Homo sapiens: one gene and its partners. The protein of the gene in region 5 purifies or fractionates together with the protein of the main gene of each other region. This does not show direct contact. Each region holds a gene or a part of one and is shown on either strand. Other genes may lie near its edges. The genes, in order: EHD4, COX7B, WARS1, NPEPPS, NIPSNAP2, FLG2 and NAP1L1.

The links.
Region 1: the proteins of NIPSNAP2 (region 5) and EHD4 purify together in Homo sapiens (affinity purification with mass spectrometry, with the first as the bait; one large-scale study listed by BioGRID). This does not show direct contact.
Region 2: the proteins of NIPSNAP2 (region 5) and COX7B fractionate together in Homo sapiens (co-fractionation; one large-scale study listed by BioGRID). This does not show direct contact.
Region 3: the proteins of NIPSNAP2 (region 5) and WARS1 purify together in Homo sapiens (affinity purification with mass spectrometry, with the first as the bait; one large-scale study listed by BioGRID). This does not show direct contact.
Region 4: the proteins of NIPSNAP2 (region 5) and NPEPPS purify together in Homo sapiens (affinity purification with mass spectrometry; one large-scale study listed by BioGRID and IntAct). This does not show direct contact.
Region 6: the proteins of NIPSNAP2 (region 5) and FLG2 purify together in Homo sapiens (affinity purification with mass spectrometry, with the first as the bait; one large-scale study listed by BioGRID). This does not show direct contact.
Region 7: the proteins of NIPSNAP2 (region 5) and NAP1L1 fractionate together in Homo sapiens (co-fractionation; one large-scale study listed by BioGRID). This does not show direct contact.

The regions. Positions count from the first base shown.
Region 1 is NC_000015.10:41,894,813-41,899,858, reverse strand, and holds the end of EHD4 (EH domain-containing protein 4), read left to right. Parts: 3' UTR 1-3,926; downstream 3,927-5,046. UniProt on the Homo sapiens protein: ATP- and membrane-binding protein that probably controls membrane reorganization/tubulation upon ATP hydrolysis. Plays a role in early endosomal transport.
Region 2 is NC_000023.11:77,902,187-77,905,811, forward strand, and holds part of COX7B (cytochrome c oxidase subunit 7B, mitochondrial precursor), read left to right. Parts: intron 1-456; coding exon 457-581; intron 582-2,997; coding exon 2,998-3,075; 3' UTR 3,076-3,625. UniProt on the Homo sapiens protein: Component of the cytochrome c oxidase, the last enzyme in the mitochondrial electron transport chain which drives oxidative phosphorylation.
Region 3 is NC_000014.9:100,332,892-100,337,870, reverse strand, and holds the end of WARS1 (tryptophan--tRNA ligase, cytoplasmic), read left to right. Parts: intron 1-668; coding exon 669-809; intron 810-2,834; coding exon 2,835-2,996; 3' UTR 2,997-4,081; downstream 4,082-4,979. UniProt on the Homo sapiens protein: Catalyzes the attachment of tryptophan to tRNA(Trp) in a two-step reaction: tryptophan is first activated by ATP to form Trp-AMP and then transferred to the acceptor end of the tRNA(Trp).
Region 4 is NC_000017.11:47,617,208-47,620,962, forward strand, and holds part of NPEPPS (puromycin-sensitive aminopeptidase), read left to right. Parts: intron 1-1,142; coding exon 1,143-1,250; intron 1,251-1,801; coding exon 1,802-1,957; intron 1,958-2,070; coding exon of another isoform or gene 2,071-2,165; intron 2,166-2,529; coding exon 2,530-2,577; intron 2,578-3,755. UniProt on the Homo sapiens protein: Aminopeptidase with broad substrate specificity for several peptides. Involved in proteolytic events essential for cell growth and viability. May act as regulator of neuropeptide activity.
Region 5 is NC_000007.14:55,995,089-55,998,556, forward strand, and holds part of NIPSNAP2 (protein NipSnap homolog 2), read left to right. Parts: intron 1-2,277; coding exon 2,278-2,361; intron 2,362-3,468. UniProt on the Homo sapiens protein: Protein involved in mitophagy by facilitating recruitment of the autophagy machinery required for clearance of damaged mitochondria.
Region 6 is NC_000001.11:152,356,646-152,361,499, reverse strand, and holds the start of FLG2 (filaggrin-2), read left to right. Parts: upstream 1-1,493; 5' UTR 1,494-1,544; intron 1,545-2,593; 5' UTR 2,594-2,615; coding exon 2,616-2,753; intron 2,754-3,852; coding exon 3,853-4,854. UniProt on the Homo sapiens protein: Essential for normal cell-cell adhesion in the cornified cell layers. Important for proper integrity and mechanical strength of the stratum corneum of the epidermis.
Region 7 is NC_000012.12:76,056,665-76,061,085, reverse strand, and holds part of NAP1L1 (nucleosome assembly protein 1-like 1), read left to right. Parts: intron 1-806; coding exon 807-948; intron 949-1,207; coding exon 1,208-1,288; intron 1,289-4,421. UniProt on the Homo sapiens protein: Histone chaperone that plays a role in the nuclear import of H2A-H2B and nucleosome assembly.

The DNA of each region.
Region 1 (5,046 bases), on a different chromosome or scaffold from region 5:
CACATTGAAGCCTGAAAATTAGCTTTTCTTACTGGTTTTTCCAATAAGTAATAGCAAAGCCCACTTATCATACTTAAACTACAGTAAAGAAAAGAGGTGGTTCTCTGCAGTGATCGTTTAGTGTGGCCCTCAAACATTAAATATCCCGAGGTCTCCTTGGTGGGTGGCAGGATTTAAATTCAATCAAATCCTGTCCTAGTGTGTGCAGTGTCTTCGGCCCTGTGGACACAGGTGAATGAGGGACCAGCCCTGCCCTGGGCTGTTGAGAAGAGATCAGTCCACCCAGAGTTAGACATTGTTTTTGTAGAAAACAGGCATTTATTATGTCTAGGGTTTTGTGTTTTTTTTTTTTCCTTACAGGATAAAAGCCTTTATACAGAAACAAAATGGAACCTTTCATATAAAACCTTTTCTTTAAAGGCTGTGTGGTTCGTATCATGAATGCCCATCACGAGGCAGGATTCGGGCACATACCTGTACTTCTGCTCCAGAGTGTGCGCTCCCCAAATCCCCTGAGTAAACCTCTCTGGACTGCTGCTCAGACACCTGCGTCAGGTGGAGGTGCCTCCCCCTCTGTGGGCACCAGCTTGGGGAGGTAGGTGACTTTTCCTTGCAAATCTCCCTGCCTCATCTCCAGAAAATTGCATACCTGCATGGCCTCTCTGCATTATTTATGCAGGAAGAGACACGAAACAGCAATGGCCACATGGTATGGGGGCCTGCTGGCACCAGAAGTGAATGAAATCAGAACCGTCCCACTGAGTCTTCCAAAAGGCACATAATTTTTTTTTTCTGTCACCTGCCTTTGGTGACAGGGTCAAAGGCACAGATTGAAGAGAAAATCTTGATTTGGGAGAAGCATTTATATCCAGATGCCTACCCTTACACTCCCTAGCTTACTTTCTACATAATTTAGTTTTAAGAGCAGGAAATGCATAACATGGTTTTTAGTCTTAACAAGCACTTAAATTCATTAGACGCATAGAAAAGAACCATTTATTATTTTATTATTTTTATTTTTATTTTGAGAGGAAGTCTCTGTCACCCAGGCTGGAGTGCAGTGGCGCAATCTCAGTTCACTGCAACCTCCGCCTCCCAGGTTCAAGTGATTCCCCTGCCTCAGCCTCCCAAGTAGCTGGGACTACAGGCACCCGCCACCACGCCCGGCTAATTTTTGTATTTTAGTAGAGATGGGGTTTTACCATGTTGGTCAATATGGTCTCGATCTCCTGACCTCGTGATCTACCCACCTCGGCCTCCCAAAGTGCTGTAACCTAAGCAGACAGTTCTGTGAATGCGTGAGGACCACCTGAAGTCTGCAGCCACGGTGGAGGTCACCAAAGGGTGAACTGAGAGAGAAGAGGGAATTCACTTGCCCAAAGGTTTACAGATGCCCAGGCAAACTGATTTTTCCATCCAGAATTATCTTGTTCTTTAACTCTCCTCAATTGTCATATATAAACATGAATTTATATACATGTGTGTCACATGAGTATGTCGTTTTAAAACAACGTGTACATATGTAAGTTTTGTCTGGATACAGAAAGCTGCTTTAGAGGGCAGCAGGTTGAGGTCTCTGATTTCTCCGTGGAGGAAAACCTCTCAGGCACTGTGATCTCCCTACCTCTGCGCTCTCAGGTGGGAGAGGCGTCAGGCAGCGGAGTCCTTTCCCTGCTGGCACCTGGTAATGTTCTTGGAGAGAAAGGAAAAAAAAAGGAAATCATTTGGCCACTTTTCTTAATATCCTCTTACATGCAGTCATTCATCAAGAAAAGTTGACTGGAAAAGAAAACACTAGAAAATATGAGGGATGGCGACCAAGTGAGGACTTGTATCTTCCCAGGACCAGTACAAAGTTCTGTGAATGTGTCCACACCACCAGCTGTCTCCCTACCCCACACGGCAGGGCGGCAGGGCCGACCCTGGGGCCTGCTCACCATCACCGTTGCCCTTCCTGCACCACCCCAATTTTCAAAGAACCTCTTCCACAGAGTGTTTATGTATAGGAGAGAGGGTGGAAGTACCTAAACTCTAGAACTACAACATCTAAGAAGCTGAGGCCCTGTTTTCTACACAGCATATGGTATCGCATAACACAAACCTTCCGGTCTTGAGTTTAAAGGGAAAATGAAAACTCCAGCCTATTGCTCCCACAGTCTGCTTCCAAGTTGTCAGCCTGCCAGTGAGGGTCTCCTGACCCCGTTTGTAGAGAAACACTGCACTAAGACTTGGGAATCTCCCCAGCTCCCAGGGAGGGGTGGCACACAACAGCCTTCCAACCTGCTTCCGCCTCCTGCTCCAGCCCTGCAGCGTCTGTCAATTCATTTCTCAACTCACCGCACTTGGATGGCCTGGGGGCAGGGTTGCTCTTCTGGGGGAGGGTCATTCATTCAGTTGGCTTTTGGCTTTCCTTTCTCCGGGCTGGGCCTGGTTCTCTTTTGAACACTTGTCGTGCTGCAGCAAGAGCATCTTTGGATTTGGGGCTGTGGAGCTGTGGTTCACCCGCGGGAGTCACAGCCGCGGCCTGGACCTTTCCACCTCGCACCCTCGCTCACCCTCCTTCATGATGCCTGGAGGATGCCTGAGACAATTGCCTTGAAGATGAGGAAAGTGTTTCACTGTTTATTTTCTCCATGGGATGTAGCAGGCAAGCATGCTTAGGACAGAAAACCACTGAGTTTACTCAGGTAAATGCGGGCCTAATACAAGAGTATTGGGTTCCAATGTTGGTTAACCAATGCAGTTAATACGCAATGCTTCTATTTTTTTTCTTTTTGTAATCTTATTTAGAAGTTTCAAACAAAAAGACATAGTCTGCTGATCAATAAACATGGAGCTGCCCTCTCCCACTGGCTCATTTTCCAGTGGCTGCGTGCTGGCCTCTCGGAGCAGAGTGTGGATCCCTGGATCCAGGTTGAACCGGGGGAGAAGAGTTAGGGAGAGGGTGTGCCTGTGAGCCCCAACTCTTCCTGTGGAGAGAAACCCAAAATGCAGCCGCTTCAGAAGGAAAGCGGCCCCATCAGGTGGGGACAGAAGAGGGTAGGCAGCAGAGGCCAGGTCTGTGGACAAAAGCCCCACTTCAGAGTGGTTGGAAGCCAGGACAGGAGGGACTCATGGAGGTGACCGCTTCACAGGAGTCCTTTCTCCAGTCGTGCTAGGGAGGAGCCCCTGCCTGTCCAGCACTGCCCCTGCCTCTTGCTGTACCTTGCCAGTGTGCCCTCCCCCCGCCCACTACCATAGTAGGCATCTGGCTTTTCCCACCAACCCATCTACCTTTTTGGTGGTCCAGACCTACAGTCTCCTTGCAGAGCACTCCTCCTCCCACCCTCACTTCAAGTGAGGTTTGGATGAGATTGACCACATCCCCTTGGTCACAAATATTGGCTCAGGAATGGACATGTGGCCCTGTTCAAGCCTATGAGAGCCAGGACCCCCAGACTTATGTTAGAACTCTTGAGAGAGATACTCTGTCTTCTCTGAACCTTGCAGTATATAGAAATGAGCCTATTGATGCAACAATATAAATGGCACTGAGAGGGGTGTCCAGAGCTGCTGGGGTCAGGGGAGGGAGGTCAGCCTGGCAGAAGCCATCTTGTGGAGCATGAAAATGAAAGAGACCTTGAGAAAGGCCAGAGGAATCCAGGCCTGTGGTGACAACATTTGAGCTGCTGGATCAAACCTCACCTGAAGTCCTTCCTATTCCTACTAGATATTTTTTTCCACTGTGTGGGCCAATGCATTCCCTTTATACTGTGTAAGCCAGGCATGGTGGCTCACACCTATAATCCCAGCAATGCAGGAGGCTGAAGTGGGAAGATCGTTGAGGCCAGGAGTTCAAGACCAGCCTGGGCAACCTAAGAAGACCCTGTCTCTAAAAAAGAATTAAATATAAATAAATAAATAATAAAAATATAATGTTTAAACCAGTTTCACTTGAGATTTTAGTTACTTGCAACATAAATAATCCAAACTTTGTTCCGACCCACAGGGTTCTCATTTCACCAGGGGCTGCAATCAGTCGTGGCCAAACAGGAGCCAGTCCTTGCATTGTATGCAGTGGCTTTAGCTGCCGTTGAGCTAGAAAGGAAGAAAAGCAGTCCACAGCCCCCGCCAACAGCTTCAAAATGCCAATCCCTGTTGAGGTCTATGTGCGAAGCACCACGCAGTTCAGTCTGTCCTCCCCGCTCACAACATCACACAGGACTCCACGGGCCGAGCAGTTCAGTCTGTCCTCCCACGCTCACAACATCACACAGGACTCCATGGGCTGAGGGTCTTACTAGGAGAAGGAACAAGCTCAGTCTCCCTGGGGTAAGCGGGTGGGATGAGGGACTTCCTAGAAGAAACAGGATTTTAACTGGGGCAGGCAGGATAGGTGAATGTGGATGATGGAGAATGGGAAAGGACGTTCAAAGCTGAAAGAGCAGCTGAAGCCCAGCCTTGGGGCAGGAGAGCTCTGGTCCTGCTCAGGAAATGGTGAGTGGCCCATGGAGAGCACCCAGAGTGAGGGGGGCAGACTAGCCTGGTTAGGTAAGCTGGCAGGCTTCCAAGGCCTGGCTGAGGCAAGGTCTGGCAAGTCTGGATTTTCCTTCCCAGGCTGTGGGAGGCTTCACAGGCACGAGCAGAGCTGCACTGTGGAAAGGTGCGGGGTGGTGGTGTCCAGGATGCCGAGTTAGGGGGTCCGTGATGAGGACCCCCAGGGGCAGTGAGGGCAGAAGGGGGGGTGCACGGGAGGACCGCCACAGCAACTGCTGCGAGCAAGGGAGGGACGCAGGGTGTCTGGAAGCCAGCCGCTGCAGAAGGGGCCTGGCAGGGAGAGGACAGCAGGAGAGGAAGCGTCTCTCAGACGCAGGAAGCCGCACCCCACCCGAGACCACGGCACCTCTCAGCGTCACCCCTGACTGCCTGCAGTGGGCCCAGGCGGTTCAAGTGTGACTCATCCCTAGCCCAGCTCTCAAGGGCGCGCTGAGCGGCTGTCCTGCTGTGGGCTGTGGCTGCCAGGAGCGCCTCCCTGAGGAGCGGGCTGTCGCTTCAGAGGCTCCAGGG
Region 2 (3,625 bases), on a different chromosome or scaffold from region 5:
GAGTAAACTTTAATGAAAATTTAAGTCATAAGTATTCAAATTAATCAATGGGAGCCAAAATTTCAGGGGTTATGCAAATACCACTTTGTAGAGAATGTTACTGACATCATTCATTCTTTGCTTTTTTCCCCCAACACTATTATGAAAACTCTCAGACATACTGAAGAGTTGGAAGAATCGTATGAACACCCATATACCCACCACAAAGATTCTACAGTTAACATTTTGCTATTTGTTTTATCATGTATTTGTCCATCTGTCAATTCATCTTATTTTTGTTGCATTTCAAAGTACACTGCTTTAATAGCTACAATATGTTTTAACATTTTATTGAACTACATAATACTGTAAAATTAACTTCCTTGGCTTTCCTGATTGGCAGTATCAATCACATATGTTTTCTTTACCTGACAATTGATAATATGCTTCTGTATTCTTTTTTCGTTTTCCTGTAAGTTCGAAGCATTCAGCAAACAATGGCAAGGCAGAGCCACCAGAAACGTACACCTGATTTTCATGACAAATACGGTAATGCTGTATTAGCTAGTGGAGCCACTTTCTGTATTGTTACATGGACATATGTAAGTACTATTGATTAATAATTTCTGTTTCAGATGTTTTTCATTCTCAGTCTATGCATTCAAAGTGTCTTAACATAGTAGTGTACATATCTAGTTAGGAGGGACTTGAGAGATTGTGTAATCTAATTACCCACACAGTGCAGGGGATTTTTTCCCCCCAGCATTCATCCATCTTCTGTTCTTAACATTCCCAGTAATAAATTGCTTACTGGATCACAAGGCAGCCCTTTCCATCTTGTGTAGCTGTTTTTTTTGTTTTTGTTTTTTTTTTTTTTTAAGAAGAAGTCTTGCTGTGTCCCCCAGGCTGGAGTGCAGTGGTGCGATCTTGGCTCACTGCAACCTCTGCCTCCTGGGTTCAAGCACTTCTTCTGCCTCAGGCTCCCAAGTAGCTGGGACCACAGGTGTGTGCCACCAGGCCTGGCTATTTTTTTTTTTTTTTTTTTTTGAGACGGAGTCTTGCTCTGTTGCCCAGGCTGGAGTGCAGTGGCGCGATCTCGGCTCACTGCAACCTCTGCCTCCTGGGTTCAAGTGATTCTCCTGTCTCAGCCTCCCAGGTAGCGGGATTACAGGCGCCCTCCAGTACGCCTGGCAGATTTTTGTATTTTTAGTAGAGACGGGGTTTCACCATGTTAGTTAGGCTGGTCTTGAACTCCTGACCTCAGGTGATCCGCCCGCCTTGGTTTCCCAAAGTGCTAGGATTACAGGTGTGAGCCACTGTGCCCAGCCTTGTGTAGCTGTTAAAAGGATCATATGGTGAGTTAAAATCTGCCTTTTTCCTATGCTACCCATTGTTCATTGAAGCACAGAAATTCTGACCCACTTCCATATAACAGCCATCAGATAATAGAAAATTGCTATCATATCTCCTCAATTTTCTTTTTCAAATTAAACATCCTTAGTTCTATCAGTAATTTTTTTGTTCATGGTTTCCAGGATTTTTACTGTCTTGGATCGCCTTCCTGGACATAACTTCACTTAACAATTTTTCTTTTAAAATTTTACACTCAGAACTTAGCACAGTATTCGTGACAGATGAGATGTAATGTATCTTTTTATATTTTAGTTTCTTTACATCTTACATTTAACAATCTATCTTTCAGTCACTGTTACTTACTGGCTAAAAGTAGGAGTCCTGAAGTCTGTGTTTTTTTTTTTTGTTTTGTTTTTTGTTTTTTTTTTTTTTGAGATGGAATCTTGCTCTGTCGCCCAGGCTGGAGTGCAGTGGCGCGATCTCTGCTCACTGCAAACTCCGCCTCCCGGGTTCACGCCATCCTCCTGCCTCAGCCTTCCGAGTAGCTGGGACTACAGGTGCCCACCACCATGCCCGGCTAATTTTTTGTATTTTTAGTAGAGATGGGGTTTCACCGTGTTAGCCAGGATGGTCTCGATCTCCTGACCTCGTGATCCACCCACCTCGGCCTCCCAAAGTGCTGGGATTACAAGCGTGAGCCACTGCGCCCGGCCCGAAGTCTTAATAAATGCATAAGTTGGTTTAAAAAGATACAAATTAATCCTTAATGTAATAAACTTTATTTAAATAAATAGGCCTTTTTAGTTTTTGTTTTGATCTTCCTGAAATCAAATATTAAGATGTGTGCCTAGGCTGGGCATGGTGGCTCACGCCTGTAGTCCTAGCACTTTGGGAGGCCCTGGCGGGTGGATCACCTGAGGTCAGGAGTTTGGTACTAGCATGGTGAAACCCCATCTCTACTAAAAATACAAAAATTAGCCGGGCGTGGTGGTGGGCACCTGTAGTCCCAGCTACTTGGGAGGCTGAGGCAGGAGAATCGCCTGAAGTTGGAGGGGGTGGAGGTTGCAGTGAGTTGAGATCGTGCCACTGTACTCTAGCCTGGGCGATAAAGCGAGACTGTCTCAAAAAAAAAAAAAGTCTCAAAAAAAAAATTAAAGTGTGCTTAATTAGAAGGATAAACAGATGTTGAACAAATGTTTGATCAGAGGAGCTTTTGGAGGTGAAATGTTCCTTAGTGATACAGAGAATATAAAATACTCTGGCAGTTACTTAGGTAGTTGTGGTTGAGGGAATCAGTGTATTGAGTGGGTAGTATAGAAATGTGAAGTATAAATTTGAATTAAATAAAATTTAAAAATTCATTTCCTTGGTGATACTAGTCATATTCCAGGTGGCTAGTAGCCACATGTAGCTAGTGACTACTGTTTTTAACAGTGAAGATCTAGAACATTTCCTTCAGCTCAAGAAGTTCTATTGAACAACAGGACTGCTCTAGAAAATTAGGACAGCAATCAGGTTTGGCCTATATGGAGGGTATTAGATCCCAGGTGAGTTTCTGTGTATTTTTAACCTATAGAACAGAATATCTGTCATTTTCAAGAAATAGTCTCCGAGAGAGTGTACTCTGGTTTAAACACGTAACTGACAGCATTTTAATTCTTACAGGTAGCAACACAAGTCGGAATAGAATGGAACCTGTCCCCTGTTGGCAGAGTTACCCCAAAGGAATGGAGGAATCAGTAATCATCCCAGCTGGTGTAATAATGAATTGTTTAAAAAACAGCTCATAATTGATGCCAAATTAAAGCACTGTGTACCCATTAAGATATGGCATTATTGAAGAAATAAAGTACATTTGAAACCTTCATTGTAGGTTTTGTTTCTTTGTAAATGAAACTAAGCTTGATCACTTTAGCCTTTATGTTAATATTAAAGTCAAATGCTGTGCAGCTTCTTAAATAGGTTTTTTTTTTTTTTTTTTTTTTTTTTTGGGACGAAGTCTCACTTTGTCCCCCAGGCTGGAGTGCAGTGGCACCATCTCAGCTCACTGCGACCTCTGCCTCCTGAGTTCAAGTGATTCTCCTGTCTCAGCCTCCCGAGTAGCCAGAACTACAGGCACATGCCATGACGCCCAGCTAATTTTTTTTTTTTTTGAGACGGAGTCTCACTCTGTTGCCCAGGCTGGAATGCAATGGCGTGATCTCGGCTCCTGCAACCTCCGCCTCCCGGGTTCAAGCGATTCTCCTGTCTCAGCCTTCCAAGTAGCTGGGATTACAGGTGCACGCCACCAGGC
Region 3 (4,979 bases), on a different chromosome or scaffold from region 5:
TTTTATTATTTTAGAAACAAGGTCTTGCTCTGTCGCCGAGGCTGGCGTGCAGTGATGCAATCACAGTCCACTATAACCTCAAACTCCTGAGTCTGAGCGATCCTTCCACCTCAGCCTCCCGAGTCGCTAGGACTACAGGCGCACGTCACCACACCAGCTAATTCCTTTTTTTTTTTTTTTTTGGCAGAGAGGAGGGCTCACTAAGTTACCCAGACTGGTCTTGACCTCCTGGCCTCAATCGATCCTCCCCCCTCAGCCTCCCAAAATGCTGAGATTACTGGCACAAGCTACCATGTCTGGCCTTACCCATCCTTTTTCTGACGCTTGTTACCTGAGGAACTTGTCTGTCCCAGGTTTCAGTTCAATCAGTGCCTTGGCTTTCCCAACTCTATTCTCCTGTGTCTCCGAGGATGGGGGGTTCAAAGCTCATCTGCCCCCACCTCTCCTGCAGTGAGCCCCACAGTAGCTCACACCCAAGCCTCACAGGAAGAACAGCAGTGGGTCCCCCACTGGCTGTGCGCCCCCAACCGGCTGTGCGCCTTGGCCTTTCCCGGGTCCAGAATCTGACAGCACTCACACCTCTGACTTCCACACTTGGGCTTCTAGCCAGTGTCCAGGCACAGGATGAGCAGGACTGAGGAGCGTGTCTGTGTCCTCTTCTGGTGCAGGTCAATAAGCATGCGTTTTCTGGAGGGAGAGACACCATCGAGGAGCACAGGCAGTTTGGGGGCAACTGTGATGTGGACGTGTCTTTCATGTACCTGACCTTCTTCCTCGAGGACGACGACAAGCTCGAGCAGATCAGGAAGGTGAGCAGGGAACCCCAAGGGCCCACAGCCGCCTTCTGCCACCCACTCCTGCCCATGGGGCCTGGAAGGCTCCAACAGCCAGGCATGAAGGCTTGGTCGGAGGTGCTCAACTGAAACAAGGTGAAAACTGAGTAGACTCGCCCTCATGGTTTTTAGGCCTGGGCTCAGAAGCCTCATGAACAAATCTCGAAAGAGCAGATACAAATCACTATTCATTTAGGAGCCACCCAAAACAGTCTTGCTTTATTAGTCATCAGAGAAATGTAAGTTAACGTGATCAAAGCTAAGACAGTTGAGTATAGAATTAGTAGGGGCTTTTGTGTTGCCATTGACTATTTTCAGTGATTATGAAGCAGATGCTTCAAGGCACACTCAAGTGAGCAGAGTGTTTATCAGCACAGCCTCAGGAAGCAGTTTGGTACTGGGTACAAAGAGCCCAAAAATGTTCAGAGCTTCTCCTCAGGTTTTCTCATTCTTAGATTTTTTCCAAGGAAATAATCCTGAGTAAGAGAAAGCTTTCCACACAAAGATGTTAAAAATGATAATAGCAAAAAGTTCAACACAGACTCAGTACAACAGAGGAAACGTTAAATTAGAATTGTTACAGGGTGGATTATTATGCGGGCATGAACTATTTTAAGTGTTCATATGCAGGGCATGGTGGCACACATCTGTAGCCCCTGCTACTTGGGAAGCTGAGACAGGAGGATCCCTTGAGCCCAGGAGTTCAAATCCAGCCTGGGCGACATAGCAAGACCCTCATTTCTTTCTTTTTTTTTTTTTTTTGAGACAGAGTCCTGCTCTGTCACCCAGGCTGGAGTGCAGTGGCGCAATCTCGGCTCACTGCAAGCTCTGCCTCCCGGGTTCACACCATTCTCCTGCCTCAGCCTCCCGAGTAGCTGGGACTACAGGCACCCGCCACCATGCCCGGCTAATTTTTTTGTATTTTTAGTAGAGACAGGGTTTTACCGTCTTATTCAAGATGGTCTCGACCTCCCGACCTCGTGATCCACCCGCCTTGGCCTCCCAAAGTGCTTGGATTACAGCTGTGACCACCGCGTCCAGCCAAGACCCTCATTTCTTTTAAAAAAAAAAAAGTTTTAGTGACACAGGAAAATATGCCTATGATAGTGAAAAAAGGATACCAAATGAAAACTCAGGGAGGAGTTAACTATGTTTAAATGAAATGCACAGGGAAAGAAATGTGAAGAAAATCTACCAAATGTTAGCGGGAGACCCACCTCTGGGCATTTTTCAGGTGGGCAATTTGTAGGTGATTTTTCTTTACTTTGCTGCTGCTTTGTGGTTTGGGTACTTTATTAAATTTGCTTAATGAGCATGCAGTACAATCAGAAAAAGAAAAAATTAGCAAGATTTGGCTGGGCGCAGTGGCTCACGCCTGTAATCCTAGCACTTTGGGAGGCCGAGGCAGGTGGGGGGAGTGGATCACGAGGTCAGGAGATCGAGACCAGCCTGGCCAATATGGTGAAATCCCATCTCTACTAAAAATACAAAAATTAGCCAGGCGTGGTGGCAGGCACCTGTAATCCCAGCTACTCAGGAGGCTGAGGCAGGAGAATCACTTGAACCTGGGAGGCGGAGGTTGCAGTGAGCTGAGATCATGCCACTGCACTCCAACCTGGCAACAGAGTGAGACTCCATCTCAAAAAAAAAAAAATTAGCAAGATTTTACAGAAGCCATAAGGCTGCCAGGAATTGTTGTTGTTTAGTGCCTGGGGGAATGGCCCCTAGCATCGGTAGGGGTGGGGACTGCCCTCCCCATTGGCCCTTTCACTGTGAGAGGCCAAGTCATGGCTATCGTCAGAGCCAGGTTTCTAGCCGTTTTAGGAAAAGTGTAGCTGAAGGTATAGGTTATTGTTGTGGTAACAACAGATCTCACTTCTGAGTGCCACCCACGTGCCAGGCTCTGCATGGGTGGTGTGGGCTGAGCTGGTGCCCGAGGCAGGAAGGAGCCACTCAGGACATGTGGAGCCATCTCTCACGTGGCTGTCTCCCTCCGGGCAGGATTACACCAGCGGAGCCATGCTCACCGGTGAGCTCAAGAAGGCACTCATAGAGGTTCTGCAGCCCTTGATCGCAGAGCACCAGGCCCGGCGCAAGGAGGTCACGGATGAGATAGTGAAAGAGTTCATGACTCCCCGGAAGCTGTCCTTCGACTTTCAGTAGCACTCGTTTTACATATGCTTATAAAAGAAGTGATGTATCAGTAATGTATCAATAATCCCAGCCCAGTCAAAGCACCGCCACCTGTAGGCTTCTGTCTCATGGTAATTACTGGGCCTGGCCTCTGTAAGCCTGTGTATGTTATCAATACTGTTTCTTCCTGTGAGTTCCATTATTTCTATCTCTTATGGGCAAAGCATTGTGGGTAATTGGTGCTGGCTAACATTGCATGGTCGGATAGAGAAGTCCAGCTGTGAGTCTCTCCCCAAAGCAGCCCCACAGTGGAGCCTTTGGCTGGAAGTCCATGGGCCACCCTGTTCTTGTCCATGGAGGACTCCGAGGGTTCCAAGTATACTCTTAAGACCCACTCTGTTTAAAAATATATATTCTATGTATGCGTATATGGAATTGAAATGTCATTATTGTAACCTAGAAAGTGCTTTGAAATATTGATGTGGGGAGGTTTATTGAGCACAAGATGTATTTCAGCCCATGCCCCCTCCCAAAAAGAAATTGATAAGTAAAAGCTTCGTTATACATTTGACTAAGAAATCACCCAGCTTTAAAGCTGCTTTTAACAATGAAGATTGAACAGAGTTCAGCAATTTTGATTAAATTAAGACTTGGGGGTGAAACTTTCCAGTTTACTGAACTCCAGACCATGCATGTAGTCCACTCCAGAAATCATGCTCGCTTCCCTTGGCACACCAGTGTTCTCCTGCCAAATGACCCTAGACCCTCTGTCCTGCAGAGTCAGGGTGGCTTTTCCCCTGACTGTGTCCGATGCCAAGGAGTCCTGGCCTCCGCAGATGCTTCATTTTGACCCTTGGCTGCAGTGGAAGTCAGCACAGAGCAGTGCCCTGGCTGTGTCCCTGGACGGGTGGACTTAGCTAGGGAGAAAGTCGAGGCAGCAGCCCTCGAGGCCCTCACAGATGTCTAGGCAGGCCTCATTTCATCACGCAGCATGTGCAGGCCTGGAAGAGCAAAGCCAAATCTCAGGGAAGTCCTTGGTTGATGTATCTGGGTCTCCTCTGGAGCACTCTGCCCTCCTGTCACCCAGTAGAGTAAATAAACTTCCTTGGCTCCTGCTCTTGTCATTGTGCTCTGTCTGGGAGGTCTGAGGAGGGAGCAGAGACCCCTCCCCTCACCCTTCTGTGGATGACCTTGAGTCTGCTGGAGTCAAAATTTGGGGATGAAAGCGCACAGTCCCAGGAACCCCATGGTGTTGTGCCACAGCTCCCAGGAATGGGCTTGTGCTGGGAGAGCCCTTAGCAGCATCCTGGTGCGGGCTCCCTCTCACACCACATTTCTCATTTCCAGCAGCTGATGGAGAATGCAAGCAGAGGTTGTCCTCGCTTTTCAGAGGAGGGGCTGGCCGTGGGGTGCTTAGTGGTGCTGTGTAGTGACGGGGAGCACAGGCTGGGAGCCAGGTCGGGCCCCATTCACATGAGGCCCAGGGCAGAGGCCGAGCTGCAAGGGAGCCCTGGGCTCATTCTACCGGCCCATCCTTATTTTGCAAGTAGGGAAACTGAGGCTTAGGAGAGGAGAACATGACTTGTCCAAGGCCATAGGGTGACTCTGATACAGCGAGTCTGTCCTGACTCTTGGTGCTTTCCACACACATACAGAGGGACCATTTTACAAATGAGGGAACTACGGTTCCCACCCTGGAGGCTGGAGGCCTGGGCTCGAGTCCCACTCAGGTACCCGGGTGCACCATGACCTCAAGTAGGCTTCCTCTCCCGGTCTCGACTCCTGCTGGCCTGGGCCCCACCCCTGCCCTCCCCTGCTCACCTGGCTGGCTATGGCCAGTGGGGGTGAGCCACCCACAGAGGCCACATAGCTCACTAGCCTGTTGCCTTGGGCAACTAATATGACTCCTCGTCGCTCTACTGCACCTGTGACGCAAGTGCAATGAGGGGTGACAAATGGAGTCAGTGACAGCTGCTGCTGTCATTGTCCACCCAGCCACAGCATCTATTGGCA
Region 4 (3,755 bases), on a different chromosome or scaffold from region 5:
ATTTTTTTCTTTATGCTTCTCTGTCTTTCAGATATTCTGCATTCAGTATGTGCTGCTTTTGCAGTTAAAAAGTGTGAAGATGCATAATCCCACTGATCAGAAACCATCATTAATTAATACTACCATTTTGATGTATTTCCAGGGGTTCTCCCCCACCCCCTTTTTTTGGAAACACAGTCTTGCTCTGTTGTCCAGACTGGAGTGCAGTGGTACGATATGGGCTCACTGCAACCTCCACCTCAGCCTTCCAAAGTGCTAGGATTACAGGCGTGAACCACTGTGCCCAGCCATATATATATATATATTTTTTAGGATAATTCTGCTTTGTCTGCTTTCTTCACTTAAATATAAGAACATGTTTATGATATATTCTTAAAATATAACTTTCAATAATGCATTTTTATAAGTACAGTATTCATTTTCAATTTTTCACTATTATAAATTAATTTGATGATCTGGTATAAGAACACTAATGATTAGTTTGTTCTTCTAAAACAGAACATTAGCCAGATATCAATGATGTAAAGAATTTGGCTATGATAGATTTTACCTCTTAGATCTTGATGTTAAACTGGTCTGAACTAATGACAGGCTGTTCATCTGGTAGCATTTACATCTAGTGATTTACTTACTGTAACAGCAGATGACAAATTTAGTGCCAAAGCATCATTTTTTTTTTCTTTTATTTTTGAGACAGAGTCTCGCTCTCTTGCCCAAACTGGAGTGCAGTGGCACGATCTCAGCTCACTGCAACCTCCCAGGTTCAAGCGATTCTCCCGCCTCGGCCTCCCAAGTAGCTGGGATTACAGGTGGGCACCACCACGCCCGGCTAATTTTTTTTTTTTGTATTTTTAGTAGAAACAGGGTTTCACCATGTTGGCCAGGCTGATCTCGAACTCTTGACCTCAGGTGATCCACCCGCCTCGGCCTCCCAAAGTGCTGGGATTACAGGTGTGAACCACCGCACCTGGCCCAAAGCATCTTGAAAAGTATTCTCTTTCTTTAATATAATGCCCTGCCATTCTTACCTAGTGAGAATATAGAACCTAAGTTTTACCTTACTGGGGAAGAAGCTCATATAATCATATGCAGAACATCCAAGGGAGAGTTAACTATTCCTATCTTTATCTTTTTTCCTGTAGCTTCATAAACAAGCAGATATGCAAGAAGAGAAAAACCGAATCGAAAGAGTCCTTGGCGCTACTCTTTTGCCTGACCTGATTCAAAAAGTCCTCACGTTTGCACTTTCAGTAAGTTACGGTGAAAACTGCATTTAGAAGTGAATCGTTACCCATCTCTGAGAAGTGTCTCTGATTCAGCTCTGATCCTCTTGAGCTGCCTTAACCCTAACTAAAGCTTCCTTTTCCAGAGTAACTGGCTTGAGTTTTTGTTACTGACTTCTGTTTTTCTCCCACTAGTGGCGAGAATCAGAATAGTTGGGAGAGTAAACAAATTGTCTCTCCAGAATGGAAACTATGAGGACAGGGACTCTTGAAAACTGGGAAACTGGCTTATGCCTTTGCTTACTTTGTGTCTCTTCCTTTCTTAAACCTATAGGCTCCTAAGCAAGTATCTGTTGAGCAGTCTGTCTGTCTGAACCTGTCTCAGTACCTCATTCTCATTTTGGTTATCTTTAGCTTAAACATTATCTTCTTTGCTGAGAACTTCTGGTTCCAGTTATTCCTAAAACAAGGAATAAGTGTCTTCAGTGTGATTACTTCAGTGTCACAGTATGGTGCACTTTCTGGTACCAGAATATGTTTTTGATACACTAGACTTTTAGCTCTCTTTCTTTTTTTAGGAAGAGGTACGTCCACAGGACACTGTATCGGTAATTGGTGGAGTAGCTGGAGGCAGCAAGCATGGTAGGAAAGCTGCTTGGAAATTCATAAAGGACAACTGGGAAGAACTTTATAACCGATACCAGGGAGGATTCTTAATATCCAGACTAATAAAGGTATGTGAAAAACTTTGAGTAGCTTGCTAATCATGGATATTATTTAGTGACATCCATGATTCACTACACCCATACATTGTGGTCTTTGCTCTTTAAATGTTTCCTGTGGCCAGGTGCAGTGGCTCACGCCTGTAATACCAGCACTTTGGGACGCCGAGGTGGGCAGATCACCTGAGGTCGGGAGTTCGAGACTATCCTGGCCAACATGGTGAAATCCTGTCCCTACTAAAAATACAAAAATTAGCTGAGCGTGGTGGTGTGTGCCTGTAATCCCAGCTACTTGGGAGGCTGAGGCAGGAGAATCGCTTGAACCTGGGAGGCAGAGGTTGTGGTGAGCCGAGATGAGGTCATTGCACTCCAGCCTGGGCAACAAGTGTGAAACTCCGTCTCAAAAAAAAAAAAGTTTCCTTAAATAGTTACTGGCTTTATTTAAGGACTTCTCCATCTCCCATCACACATCCTTTATAACAGACTGAAGTTGGCAGAGAACAGAATGATTTATTTTTAGGGTAAATGGAAGTTTGTTCTCAGCCTCTTGGTTTCACTTACTGTTTAAAACCATTGTTTTGCAGCTATCAGTTGAGGGATTTGCAGTTGATAAAATGGCTGGAGAGGTTAAGGTAAGGAAAATACTGTTTACTCTTCACTTTTCAGTCTAGTAAGTAAAAACAATAACCTGGTTGTAATTATAGTGTTGGGATAATGTACTGTAGCATCTCTGTGTTTTTGTTTAGAGAAAGACATCATGCAGGGCTGTATAGGCCATATTAAGAATTTCCTAAAAATGGCCAGGCATGGTAGCTCACATCTGTAATCTCAGCACTTTGGGAGGCCGAGGTGGGTGGATCACCTGAGGTCAGGACTTCAAGACCAGCCCGGGCAACATGGTGAAACCCCAAATTAGCTGGACATGGTGGTGCACGCCTCTAATCCCAGCTACTCGGGAGGCTGAGGCAGGAGAATTGCTTGAGCCCGGGAGGTGGAGGTTGCAGTGAGCTGAGATCGTGCCATTGCACTCCAGCCTGGGTGACAGAGCGAGACTCCTGTCTCAAAAAAAAAAAAAAAAAAAAAAGTCCTAAAAATGGAAAGCCTTCGAATGGTTTATAAACAAGGCAGTGCCTTGATCTGATTTGTGTTATAAAAATTTCAGTCTGGCTGCAATGTGGATAATAGTTTGGAATGGGGAAGAGAAGATGTTGGGAAGCTAACTCTCCTAGCAAGAATGATAGAATAGCTTACAGTAGGGTAGTGGCAGTAGTGGAGGAGATGGAATAATGGAGATTCAGGGGCTTGAATTTGTTAACCATTTAGTTCAACAATATTTATTGATTGGCTTCTCTGTTGTGAGCATATCTGGGAGAGGAAGAAAAACAAGCCAGGATAATCCCCAGGTTTCTGGTGTATAAATGTTGGTACTACTCTGCGATGGAATGGAAAAAGACTTGAGGCCCTGAGAACTGAACCATGATTAGGAGCCTTGGAACAGTAGCAATTGTCATCTGTGTAAATAAGGTTATTGATTTCTAAAAGGTCTATGTTTAATCAGATGGATTAGTCATTCTGTCTTTCACACCTGTGGTGACTAATTCAAAGGAAAAGCCCTATCATTTTGCCAGCTGGTGTTTAAGAGTTGCTTTGTTTTCTGTGAAACCAGGTGTACTGCATTAGAAAAGTTTATTCAACTTTTAATCATTAAGCATTGTGATAAATTGTAAACTTAGAAATTGTTTGGTTTACTGTATTAAAAATGTTGGATTCCTGTAATTCCAGCATTTTGGGAGGCTGAGGTGGGAGGATT
Region 5 (3,468 bases):
CAGCAAATCCGACGTCACAGAGGGACAGTCTGTACGGGGCTGTCTGGAACTAGCGAGGTCAACAGTGAAAGTCCATAGATTGATGGCATTAGTGAGCTGAAAGTGAGTAGGGATGATGGGGAAAGGAATAAGGGGTAAAGCAAGCAGCCATGGAAGAAGGAGGCCAGGGAAGTCAAGAGTGCCTTCCACAGAGTGGTCCCAGCCTTTCTTTGTAGACTGACTGCTTACTTCCTCGACAGAGGCAGGCCTGCATTTTACCCAGAGCAGCAGCTTCCTGCACATACTCACTGCCTGCCTTTGTAGACGTGGTTCCACTGTCTCATGACATTGACCCCCTCACCATTTCCATCCCCACACACTTTTGTTTGGCACCATCTTTGGTATTTTTCCAGGCCTGCCCCAGATGTCACCCTTCCCCAGTAGTGAACATCATCACTCCTCCTGAGCCCCCAGAGCCTTGTGTGGTGCTGGTTATTACCGTTGCGGCTGTATATGGTGTGCAACCCTCCCAGGCATGTGAATAAGCACAGGTGCTAGAAGGGCAGGATTGGATGGAGGAAGGTTCCATCCCTTTGGCTGTTGGGCAGAGGTCAAGCCAGGTGCATGCTCCATTCACATCAGCACCTGTAGCTGCCCGGAGAGGGCCTCCCAGATGCAGGATCCTGGAATGGCAAACAGGCAGGCACCAGAGTGTGAATGGCGGAGCTCTCATAGAGGCTGTGGGGAATGCAGGACAGACCTCTTGTCTCTGCCCTGTCGGGAGGACTCAAGGCTTCACAGAGCAACAGCAAGTTGAAGATGATTGCTTGAGGCCAGGAGTTTGAGGCTGCAGTGAGCTATGACTGTGCCACTGCACTCCAGTCTGGGCAAATAGAGCAAGACCCTGTCTCAAAAAAAAATGTAATTAACAAGATATTGGCTGGGCACAGTGGTTCACGCCTATAATCCCAGCACTTTGGGAGGCCGAGGCAGGTGGATCATCTGAGGTCAGGAGTTAAGAGACCAGCCTGACCAACATGGTGAAACCTCATCTGTACTAAAAATACAGAAAATTAGGCATGGAGGCGCATGCCTGTAATCCCAGGTACACAAGATGCTGAGGCAGAAGAATCGATTGAACTCAAGAGGCGGAGGTTGCAGTGAGCCGAGATCGCACCACTGCATTCCAACTTGGGCAACAGAGCAAGACTCCGTCTCAAAAAAAAAAAAAAAAGAAAAGAAACCAAGGCATCTGGATGAGATACCTGTGAATTGTACCATGACACAGGTGATCCCCCTCCACCTGAAGCGCCTTTCTTCCTATTCCTACGTCAGTGATGTCCTTTTCAACTTCAACACCCACCTGGTCAGCTTGCACCTTTCCCACAGCTCTCCCATTGCTTGCCCTGCTCCCCTATACACTGTGTCCTTGTATGGGCCACGGCACTCTCCACAACTGACCTCGCCTGCCTCATATCCTGGGGCTTCACCGCTGGAACACGCTCCCTGCCCAGATCAGTGTAGTGCGAGATAAATGTTGAGTAAAATTGATCTGACATTGCTCATCTGTGGTCTCACAGTTTCTGGTCATGAATTTAACATGTTATTGGAGAATTTCACTTGGTTTATAAAGGTATATCTTAGATTCACTAGATTGTAAAGCTTAAGAGGGAATTGTGTCTGGATGTGGTGGCTCACGCCTCGATTCCCAGCAGTTTTGGAGGCTGAGTCGGGAGGATCACTTGAGTCCAGGTGTTTGAGACCAGCTCGGGCAACATAGTGAGACCCCATCTCAAACAAACAAACAAATAATTTTTTTAACTTAAGAATGGGCCAGGCGTGGTGGCTCACCCCTGTAATTCTAGCACTTTGGGAGACTGAGGCGTTTTGATGATTTGAGCCCAGGAGTTTGACATCTGACTGGGCACAAAAAAATACAAAAATTAGCCAATGTGGTAGCACATTCCTGTAGTCCCAGCTATTCAGCAGGCTGAGGTGGGAGGATCACTTGAGCCTAGGAGGTCAAGGCCGTGGTGAAACATCATCGTGCCATTGCGCTCCAGGCTGGTTGACAGAGTGACCTTGTCTCAGAAAAAAAAAAAAAAAAGACTGAAAGTTTGCTTTTCCCACGTGGCCTAATATAATTTTGCTCAGAATTTCCCCAGCCCAGTATATTACACACCTGAAGTAGTCCCTGAGAAAACTAGATGTCCAGGTGAAGCAAGACTTTAACGGATGTATGGGTGGAATGCAGTGTATGTGTTTTAAGTCTTACTTCTCTGTGTGGTTATTTTTAAGCTTACAGGGATCTTCAGACCAGGGAAGACATACGGAATGCAGCATGGCACAAACATGGCTGGGAGGAATTGGTATATTACACAGGTAATCTCTTAACAGCCATGAAATATGCTTTTTGTCTTACTGTTTCAATCATGTTCTTTCACCCTGACACTAATAGGTGGGTTTTGTAATAGTATGTTGCTAGGATAGTGAGTTATCAGGTTGTGGGGGGAAGGGAGATAGTCAATTTTTCTCTAATACTTACATGACTTTTTTTCAATAAAGTAGAATATCCATGCTTTCAAATAGGTATATCATCTGTTACAGTTTTCAGACCCTTGGATGTTGTAAATTTTACATCATTACCTGTTTTTGTAGATTTCTATATTCTCTGAAAACTTATTACACAAATAAAATTTTTTTCTAAGCTTTCCTTTTCCATCAGAATTGTTAGTATCCCAAATCAGAACTTAATACATCAATTAAAGAGTGATTTTGAAATTAGATAAATTAAACTTCCTGTATGTACAGTATGTATCTGGGTACATAATACATGCATGTGCACATACATAAGTATATTATGAAACCCTGTTTGCTTGATTTTTAAAAGAAAACAGTTGGCTGAATGTAACCCAGTGGCATTGGTAGAGGTAATCAGTACCAGCCATGTTGCATGGCAAGTATATTTCAGGCCGGGCGCAGTGGCTCACGCCTGTAATCCCAGCACTTTGGGAGGCTGAGGTGGGCAGATCACCTGAGGTCGGGAGTTCGAGACCAGCCTGACGAACATGATGAAACCTGTCTCCATTTGAGAGACTGAGGCAGGAGAATCGCTTGAACCTGGGAGGTGGAGATTGTGCCACTGCACTCCAGCCTGGGTGACAGAGCAAGAATCCGTCTCAAAAAAAAAAAAGTGTATCTCAGCCCCTATACTACCAAGAAAATAAAAGAGTAATTTGTCCTAGAAAGTAGGTGTTACCTTGTCTTTCAGTTCAAGAGATTATATAACATATAATTACATGTTATAATTATATAATTGTATTTGATTTTGCTGCTTACGCGAACGTTTGAGAAATCACCATTTCTCCTCACAGTATGGACTTTTCCTACCTCCCACAAATAAAACAAATATCCAGGTAGGATCTGTTTTTTTTTTTTTTTTTTTTTTTTTTGAGACGGAGTCTTGTTCTGTCGCCAGGCTGGAGTGCA
Region 6 (4,854 bases), on a different chromosome or scaffold from region 5:
TTTAGCATCGGCTAGCATGTGTATCTGTTCTAGTGCTGCTACTAACTAGCTGCGATTTGTAACAAATGTTTACATTGCTCTATGCTTTTATTACCTTATCTATAAAATGGGGTTATTTTGAGGAATAAATAGATAAGCATGTAAACCTACCATGTATAGAAGATAGTAAGCACTTAGCACTTAATGGTAGCTGCTATCCTCCTCATCATCATCATTATCACCTGGTAGCAAAGTACAGCAGAATTGGCTCTCCATGCTTAAGACTTACAGCTCTCTGATTATTTTTGTTACCCTCAAGTGTATTTGATATACTTTCTGTACATAAGTGAACATTTTCCCAAGGGTCCAGGCCCTAAACATGCCAGACTACCAGTGGATCGCAGAGTGCTGGAAGAAAGCTCACTCTAAATTCACCCTGAACATATCTGAAAACATTATTTTTATATATAGCCAATTACACTTTTCTAGCCTAGAAATGAGCCTTCACAAGGTCAGAGAATGTTTCCTCTCTTCCTAACAGCACTCTGTATGTTACTTTTTTATATTATTTGCGTTTGAGTGGGCCTTACACTCCTAAAATGGTGCATAATTTTTGCATGATAGTTATATATGATAAATACACAGAGGTAAGTTAGTATAATGGTAAACAGCAATTGCAATAAGGTAGATACAGGTTCAACTTCTGGTTTCTCTGCCTACTAGCTATGACCTTGGAGAAGATCCTTATGCTTCCAGAACCTGTCTCTATAAAATGGGATAATAAATACATATCTCGTATGAAGGTTGTGAAGATTAAATGAGGTGATAAGATCTAGTATTTGGTAACATAATATGGTAACTATAGTTAACTATTTATTGTATATTTTTAAATAACTAAAATAGTAGAATTAGAATGTTCCTACTACAAAGAAATGCTTGAGGTGCTGGATACCCCAATTACTGTAATTTGATCATTACACATGGTATGCCCATATCAAAACATCACATGTACCCAACAATTATATACAACTATGTACCCATAACTAAAAGTGCAGATTTTTTAAAGATTGAGATGGTTTGTTTAAAGTATTTAGCACATAGTAAATTCTCAATAAATGTCACTTTTTATTATTACAAAAAAGACATGAATTAGATGAACCTAGTGGCTCAGGTTCATTTTCAATTAAATAAGCATTTATTGTGCACCTTCCAAGTATCTTACACTCTGCTACTTTCTGTGGGTACTAGTTAAAAGAAATGTATAACATGAGTCCTCTAAAACAAAGTCTGTGCTTTTCACATGTATATGACCCTGAAAAAAAAGGTATCTTGCAACCATGTCCTCGTACTGGAAGGTGGGGCTGGTACTAGCCTTTCTGCAATCATCTGTAGATAACAATGTGAAGGAGGAAGGTAAATATGTAGAGGTGGAGTTAGGTTTGATGGAAAATGAATCACCTCATTCACTATAATCACTATAAGCTATATAAGGGTCATTATCCCAATCCATCGTCACCCTGCAAGCTGCATCAGGCTTTATCCTACTTGTTCCTTTGGTGAACCAGGTGAGAGAAAATTCATCCAGCTACATTTATGAATATTTGGTGTTGTCCATAGTAGAAGTCTAGGGATATAAGCTAAGGCAGAGTTCATGTATATTTTGCCTTTCTTTTCTTTTTTGTTTCTTTCTTTCATTTTCTTTTCTTTTTGTTTGCTTATTTGTTTGGTTAGTTTAGTTTATTCTGGGGCCTTTTTGTAGTTAAGTTCATTTTTATGGAGAAGAATAATGCAAGTAAAAGTTCACCTTCCTCTAGGCCATTCCACAGTCTGTTCCGAGTCTTTTTCCATGCCCTCTTTTCTGGGCTGTCCAGCTCAAACTGGGAGGCAGCTGGGTCTGTTGCAGAGTCCCTTCCTTATTCAGTGTTGGTTCCCAGAGCTCCAAGATCTAATTATCCACTAGTTAAACTGCTGCCTGCATTGCTGAGCTCTTCTTCTTGATTAATTAAAGAAAACAGTGTTTGGTCAAGTGCTTGACATTAAGAGAGTTCCTAAGCTCTACTGAGTTCTACTGTCTCATGCCTATGAAACACCAAGCTATTTTGAGCCCCTTTGCCCATTTTTAATTTGCTGAAGGCCTTAAGGGTCCAGTTTAGCTTCTGGTGCCCAGAGGATAAACAGATGTGCATGGTGGAAGGTCTGTCACTTTTGACTCAAGAAAAGCAGTGAAACTAGAAAGAGAGATTGAGGCAATGGTGTCTGGCTGGTTCTGGAAATTTTGGAAGCCTTAGAACAACACCCAGAATGCCAACACACTCAAAGTGTAGAGATACTATGTAGAGACTATACTTACCCATGACAGGAAATATAGAGACTTGAGGTCTATTCTCAGTTGAACCAGTAACATGCCAAGACTTGATCACAGAAAAGTAACTCAAAGTTAACAAAGTTAATTTTCATTGTGTTAAACGGGGTTGTATCATCCCTGGCCCATTCTTACGTTTTGAGATTTAAAAAACAAGAGGTTAAAAAAATCATGCTGGTTATTATTAAAATGAAAATTGCTGATAAAAGGAGAGAATATGAATAATAGGGTTCTTTGTTTTTCTGTGTCCAGGTTCACTTAAACTTGCAAAAAGATGACCGACCTCTTGAGAAGTGTTGTCACCGTAATTGATGTTTTCTACAAATACACCAAGCAAGATGGGGAGTGTGGCACACTGAGCAAGGGTGAACTAAAGGAACTTCTGGAGAAAGAGCTTCATCCAGTTCTGAAGGTGAGAGCCATGTGCCAGAACTGAAGGCTGCTGGAGTCCTGTACAAGCTCTGTTGTATGACCCAGATCAGCTAAAAAGTGCACAGCCCCAGTGAACTCTAAGCAAACTCTATGAGTGGTATTTTGGGGATGCCAGAAAGTCTGTTAAAGCAGCAGATATTTTAAAGAAAGTGAATGTTTCGTCCTCACTTTTCCACCTATGCACTCCTACCTCATAGACTCTCAGACTTTCTCATACACCCAGGCTTTTCCTTAGAAAAAGCAGAAAATAAAATTATACTAGGACACGAATTAATAAATTATCCTATCAAATGGAAAAAAAAGTATAGAAAGGGAAATCATCTACATAGGGAGTTGACAAAATAGCCATGATTAAGAATCAAAAATAAAATGCCAGCATTTTATTCCATCTACTTAAAAAGGACTCAGCTAGGCGCGGTGGCTCATGCCTGTAATCCCAGCACTTTGGGAGGCCGAAGTGGGTGAATCACAAGGTAAGGAGATCAAGACCATCCTGGCTAATACGGTGAAACCCCATCTCTACTAAAAATACAAAAAATTAGCCGGGCGTGGTTGCATGCCCCTGTAGTCCCAGCTACTCGGGAGGCTGAGGCAGGAGAATGGCGTGAACCTGGGAGGCAGAGCTTGCAGTGAGCAGAGATCGCACCACTGCACTCCAGCCTGGGCTACAGAGCAAGACTCCATCTCAAAAAAAAAAAAAAGACTCAGTTATTAACTTCAAAATAATAGATGATAAATTCCAACATGGAAGATATTAACATGTAATAGTTACAATTTATGTAAAACTTAGAAATACCAGTTACTGAACTTAGTTTATTCCACTCCTTCCTGTAGGCCTTACCTAAGCACTTAATCCTTTAGCCTAAATCCTTGAAATGTCTTCTTCTGAGGATCCCAGTAGTCTTTATTTTCTATTAACCCTTAACATTTACTGGGTTCTATTAACCTAAAGTAATCCTTTATTGGACTAAAACTACATCATGTCAAACATCCATAATTTCACAGCGCTATTTAAATGTGTTAGTTGAGTATGCAGGTTAGGCTGACCAGGTCTCCCTTGGTGTGTCACTCATATACAGAACCCAGATGATCCAGACACAGTGGATGTCATCATGCATATGCTGGATCGAGATCATGACAGAAGATTGGACTTTACTGAGTTTCTTTTGATGATATTCAAGCTGACTATGGCCTGCAACAAGGTCCTCAGCAAAGAATACTGCAAAGCTTCAGGGTCAAAGAAGCATAGGCGTGGTCACCGACACCAAGAAGAAGAAAGTGAAACAGAAGAGGATGAAGAGGATACACCAGGACATAAATCAGGTTACAGACATTCAAGTTGGAGTGAGGGAGAGGAGCATGGATATAGTTCTGGGCACTCAAGGGGAACTGTGAAATGTAGACATGGGTCCAACTCCAGGAGGCTAGGAAGACAAGGTAATTTATCCAGCTCTGGGAACCAAGAGGGATCTCAGAAAAGATACCACAGGTCCAGCTGTGGTCATTCATGGAGTGGTGGCAAAGACAGACATGGTTCCAGCTCTGTAGAACTGAGAGAAAGAATAAACAAGTCACACATTAGCCCTTCTAGGGAATCTGGGGAGGAGTATGAATCTGGATCTGGATCAAACAGTTGGGAAAGGAAAGGTCATGGTGGTCTGTCATGTGGATTGGAGACTAGTGGGCATGAATCAAACTCTACTCAGTCAAGAATTAGAGAACAAAAGCTTGGGTCTAGCTGTTCAGGTTCAGGAGACAGTGGGAGGCGAAGTCATGCATGTGGTTATAGCAATTCAAGTGGGTGTGGAAGGCCACAAAATGCTTCAAGTTCTTGTCAGTCACATAGATTTGGAGGGCAAGGAAATCAATTTAGCTATATTCAGTCAGGCTGTCAGTCAGGAATTAAGGGAGGACAAGGCCATGGCTGTGTCTCAGGAGGTCAGCCCTCTGGATGTGGTCAACCTGAGTCTAACCCCTGTAGTCAGTCCTATAGTCAGAGAGGATATGGAGCTAGAGAAAATGGTCAACCACAGAACTGTGGAGGACAATGGAGAACAGGCTCAAGTCAGTCCTCTTGCTGT
Region 7 (4,421 bases), on a different chromosome or scaffold from region 5:
TCTCATTCTGTCAGCCAGGCTGGAGTGCAGTGGTGGTGCAATCTTGCTCAATTCAGCCTCGACATCCCAGGCTCAGGTGATGCTCTCATCTTAGCCTTCCAAGTGGCTGGGACCACAGGCATGCACCACCACACCCAGCTAATTTTTGTATTTTTTGTAAGGACAGGGTTTTGTCATGTTGCCCAGGCTGGTCTTGAGTTTTTGGGCTAAAGGAATCCACCTGCCTCGGCTTCCCAAGGTGCTGGGACTACAGTTGTGAGCCATAGCACCTGGCCCTAAAGCTGTTATTTTAAAAATACATGTCTCCTCTTTATAGTATGTTACACTTGTATTTAATAATGTAATTACTAATTCCTAATTAAATATGGAGACTAAAAAAATAATGGTGTGTGGAATCTTGTCCTTTTTCCTGATATGTCTATGCTCCCCTCCTTTTTCCTAATAACTTGTATGGGTGAGATATATGTAAAAGAAAAATCCAAGTAATCATTGTTCTCAGAATTAAGATGGTCTGTCCATGACTTCAGCAATGACAAGTCCAACACTTAACTTGGGTAAAGATTTAGGGTTGACAATATGATTTACATTTTGTTTATCAATTTACCCAGTTACATTTCTACTTTTGAAATATAGCCAGTGGATCAATGTATTTATATCTATTTGATTTTTATTTACTTTGAATCTACCTTTTGCTTCAGATAAAAAACCTGTCATTCACTAACTCCAATGCTTCAGTTTCAGTATGACAAAAGAAGTGTGACTTCCATTTTACTCTGATGCTATATAACTGATTTCTAACCTTTCAGCCTGCCTAGGGTAGTTAAAAGACGAGTGAATGCTCTCAAAAACCTGCAAGTTAAATGTGCACAGATAGAAGCCAAATTCTATGAGGAAGTTCACGATCTTGAAAGGAAGTATGCTGTTCTCTATCAGCCTCTATTTGATAAGGTAATGCTTTCTCCTACTTTGTTTAATTTAACATTCTAGAAGACGAATTCTAGAAACATAAGCAGACTTGGAAGAGGTTAATCTTTAGAACTCTCATTGAAATTGTTATTAGAGGCAGCACTTGGAGGAACTATCAATAATAGCAGTTAAAGTTGTGGTATGCATTTGTTAAATTTGTAAGACTTCTTAGTGAGAAACCACTGGTTTTAGCTTGGATGCCAGTGTTTTTATACAGCCTTTTTTTTTTAAATCATTTTAGCGATTTGAAATTATTAATGCAATTTATGAACCTACGGAAGAAGAATGTGAATGGAAACCAGATGAAGAAGATGAGATTTCGGTTAGTACCAACTTTATTTTGGTATGTTTTTAAGATGATAAAATCTTAGGACTTGTCAGAAATGTTAGCATTTAATGATGGAGTACAATATTATATAACCAGTTGTATTTTTTCATTTTTTAATTTTACGTCTTTATTACACGTTTTTCTATTACTTTATTTTTAAAAAACAGTCATTCAAGATTGTAATTTGCATGGCAATAAGCAGCGGTTTCATGGGTTCTAAGTTTCTTAAGTGTCCACAGCAGTTTAAAACACCACAAGTCTTATTTCCAATTTGCAGCACCTGACTTAAAGTTCGAATTCATCTGATGGAGCATTAAAACTGTCATTTTCTCTTGTGAAAAGACATAATTGCTATTTCCAGGACTGTATATTGAACATGGTTGTACATTATTTTTAATTGGTTAGTAGAATTTTACTCATGTAATTTATATCCAGAATAAGAACCTCTAGCATCTCTGAATGGCCTTCCTCTCAGAACGATGATGATTAAATGTCTAAAATGTATCTGGGGTGCCCCCACTTGACATTACCAAACATGTTTCCAAATAATCTTAGAAAATATGATTCTTTAAACATATGCATACCACATCTTTAAACATAAACATACCACACAGTGCACCATCACTTCCTTAACCATTTTCCAATTGTTCACTTATAACATTTGCAATTTTTTATTATAAATCATATTGTGATGAATACTTTCATCCATAAGTTTTATTGCAAGGCTTATTGTTTCTTCTAATGTCTTCTAATTTCAAAGAAGTGGCTTACTGGTTCAAACAGTGCACATACGTGGTTTTAAGGCTTTTAGTATACTTTACCAAATAATCTCCAGAATAGCTCCAACAACTCCTACCAACAGTATGTTATTGTGCCCATAGGGTGGACTTGATAACAGCAAAGCAAATTCAACCACAGATATATTAGATTCTCACCCATCTCAAAACTATCACATCAGAGAAGCAAGGAGACATATTATTGGTGAGGAAGCCAAATTCAAATTCTTTTAAAAAATCACTCAGCTTTAGATCAGTAAAATAATCAACAAAAATGGTCACCGCAAAGTCTACCGGGTTTTTCAAAAAATAAAAAGAGAGAAAGAGAAAGGCCAGGCGCAGTGGCTCATGCCTGTAATCCCAGCACTTTGGGAGGCCTAGGTGGGCCAATCACTAGGTCAGGAGTTCGAGACCAGCCTGGCCAACATGGTGAAATCCCATCTCTACTAAAAATACAAAATATTAGCTGGGTGTGGAGGCGGGTGCCTCTAATCCCACCTACTCGGGAGGCTCAGGCAGGAGAATCACTTGAACTCGGGAAGTCGAGGTTGCAGTGAGCCGAGATCGCACCACTGCGCTCCAGCCCAGGCGACAGTGTGAGACTCCGTCTCAAAAAAAAAAAAAAAAAGTACCAAATAACCAAAATTTTTTATTTGACTAAATTCTGTTCATGTATGAGCATGACAGTCTCTCCTGTTTATTTGACTTTGGCAATAAAAAAATAAGCAGCCTTGTACAGAACAGGGAAAATGCCAAGAACGAAGGCAGTCTACAGTTTTACTGTAGAATACATATATATATATATATATATATATATATATGTAGGCCTCTCTCCCTTTGGCCATATCTACTGTCAGTTCAGGCCATTAACTACAGACAAATTTTCAAATTCACTTCTTCTCCAAGATCTTCGATGCTGTCATCATCTACTTCTGTCTGTTTTTCCTGAATGACCTCAATTATGTCATCTGTAAAGTCTCCTTGAATGATAATTTCATCCTCCTCTGTTACTGAGGCACCACAGGAGAATTTTTGAGCAAAAAATCTTTGTGTGATTTAAGATCAATTTCAAAAGTTACAAGGCCACAACCCTTGTCACATATTTCTTTGCTCTGGGAATTTTGGCTATAGTAACCTTTTGTGGTACCGTCTTTGTTTTTTTGTTTTATTTGACCCCTTCCACCTCTCTTCTGTTTTTTCTTCTCCTCTTCTTCCCCTGCTGTTCCTTGACCTTGACAGATTCCAGCTTCTTGTTTGGGTGAATTTTCCACAGTAAGTTTTGCATATTCATTTGGAAAATTCTTCTCTAATCATTGTCTACATTTAGCAACATCAGGCATATATTCACAGTACTCTATTGGTAATGAACAGACTCCACAATAAAGGACTCAAAGTAGGTAATCAGCATCTAACTTGGCTCTGTTCCTTGGGTCTCCTTTGCAGTCAGCCCTATTGGAATCGGAAACGTCAGCAGCCATTTCACAAACCCAGGCAGTTGCACAGGCCCCGCCAGCTCTGCTCCCGCCACTGTTGCCAGCTGAGCCGACAAATGCAACTCGTTTCCCCGGCCAGGGCCTCCCTAGAGCATCAGTTGTATTTTTATACCTAGGAAATATTTTTCCTTTTTGTAAGAATGATAATGCAGATGAACTGTTATTCAACCTGGCACCACCATCTGTACTCAAAAAGTCATTATTTCCTTACATTTTATAGTTTTTTTGTTTAAGAGACAGGGACTTGCTGTGTTGCCCAGGCTGGAGTACACTGGCATGATCTTGGCTCACTGCAGCTCATTCCTGGGCCCAAGCTATTCTCCCACCTCAGCCTCCCAAGTTGCTAGGACTATCTGAAGCTACTATGCCCAGCTTAATCTACTTTTTTTTGTAGAGGCAGAGTCTTCTTGCCTAGGCTGGTCTTAGACTCCTGGCTTCAAGCAATCTTCGCACCTCAGCCTCCCAAACTGTTGGGATTATGGGCTTGAACCACTGAGCCACTGTGCCCAGCCTATTTTTATAGTTTTTTTGAGTCTCTGTTGCCCAGGCTGGAGTGCAGTCTCGGCTTATTGCAACCTCCACCTCCTGGGTTCAAGCAATTCTTCTGCCTCCTTCTCCCAGTAACTGGATAACAGGCGTGCGCCACCATGCCTGACTAATTTTTTGTACTTTTAGTAAAGATGGGGTTTCGCCATGTTGGCCAGGCTGGTCTCCAACTCCTGACCTTAAATGATCCACCCACCTCACTTCCCAAAGTGCTGGGATTACAAGCGTGAGCCACTGCGCCTGGCTTACAGTTTTTAGTTTGTAGATTCATTATATTCTTTTTTTTTTTTTAACTTCATGGTAGGCTGAGGA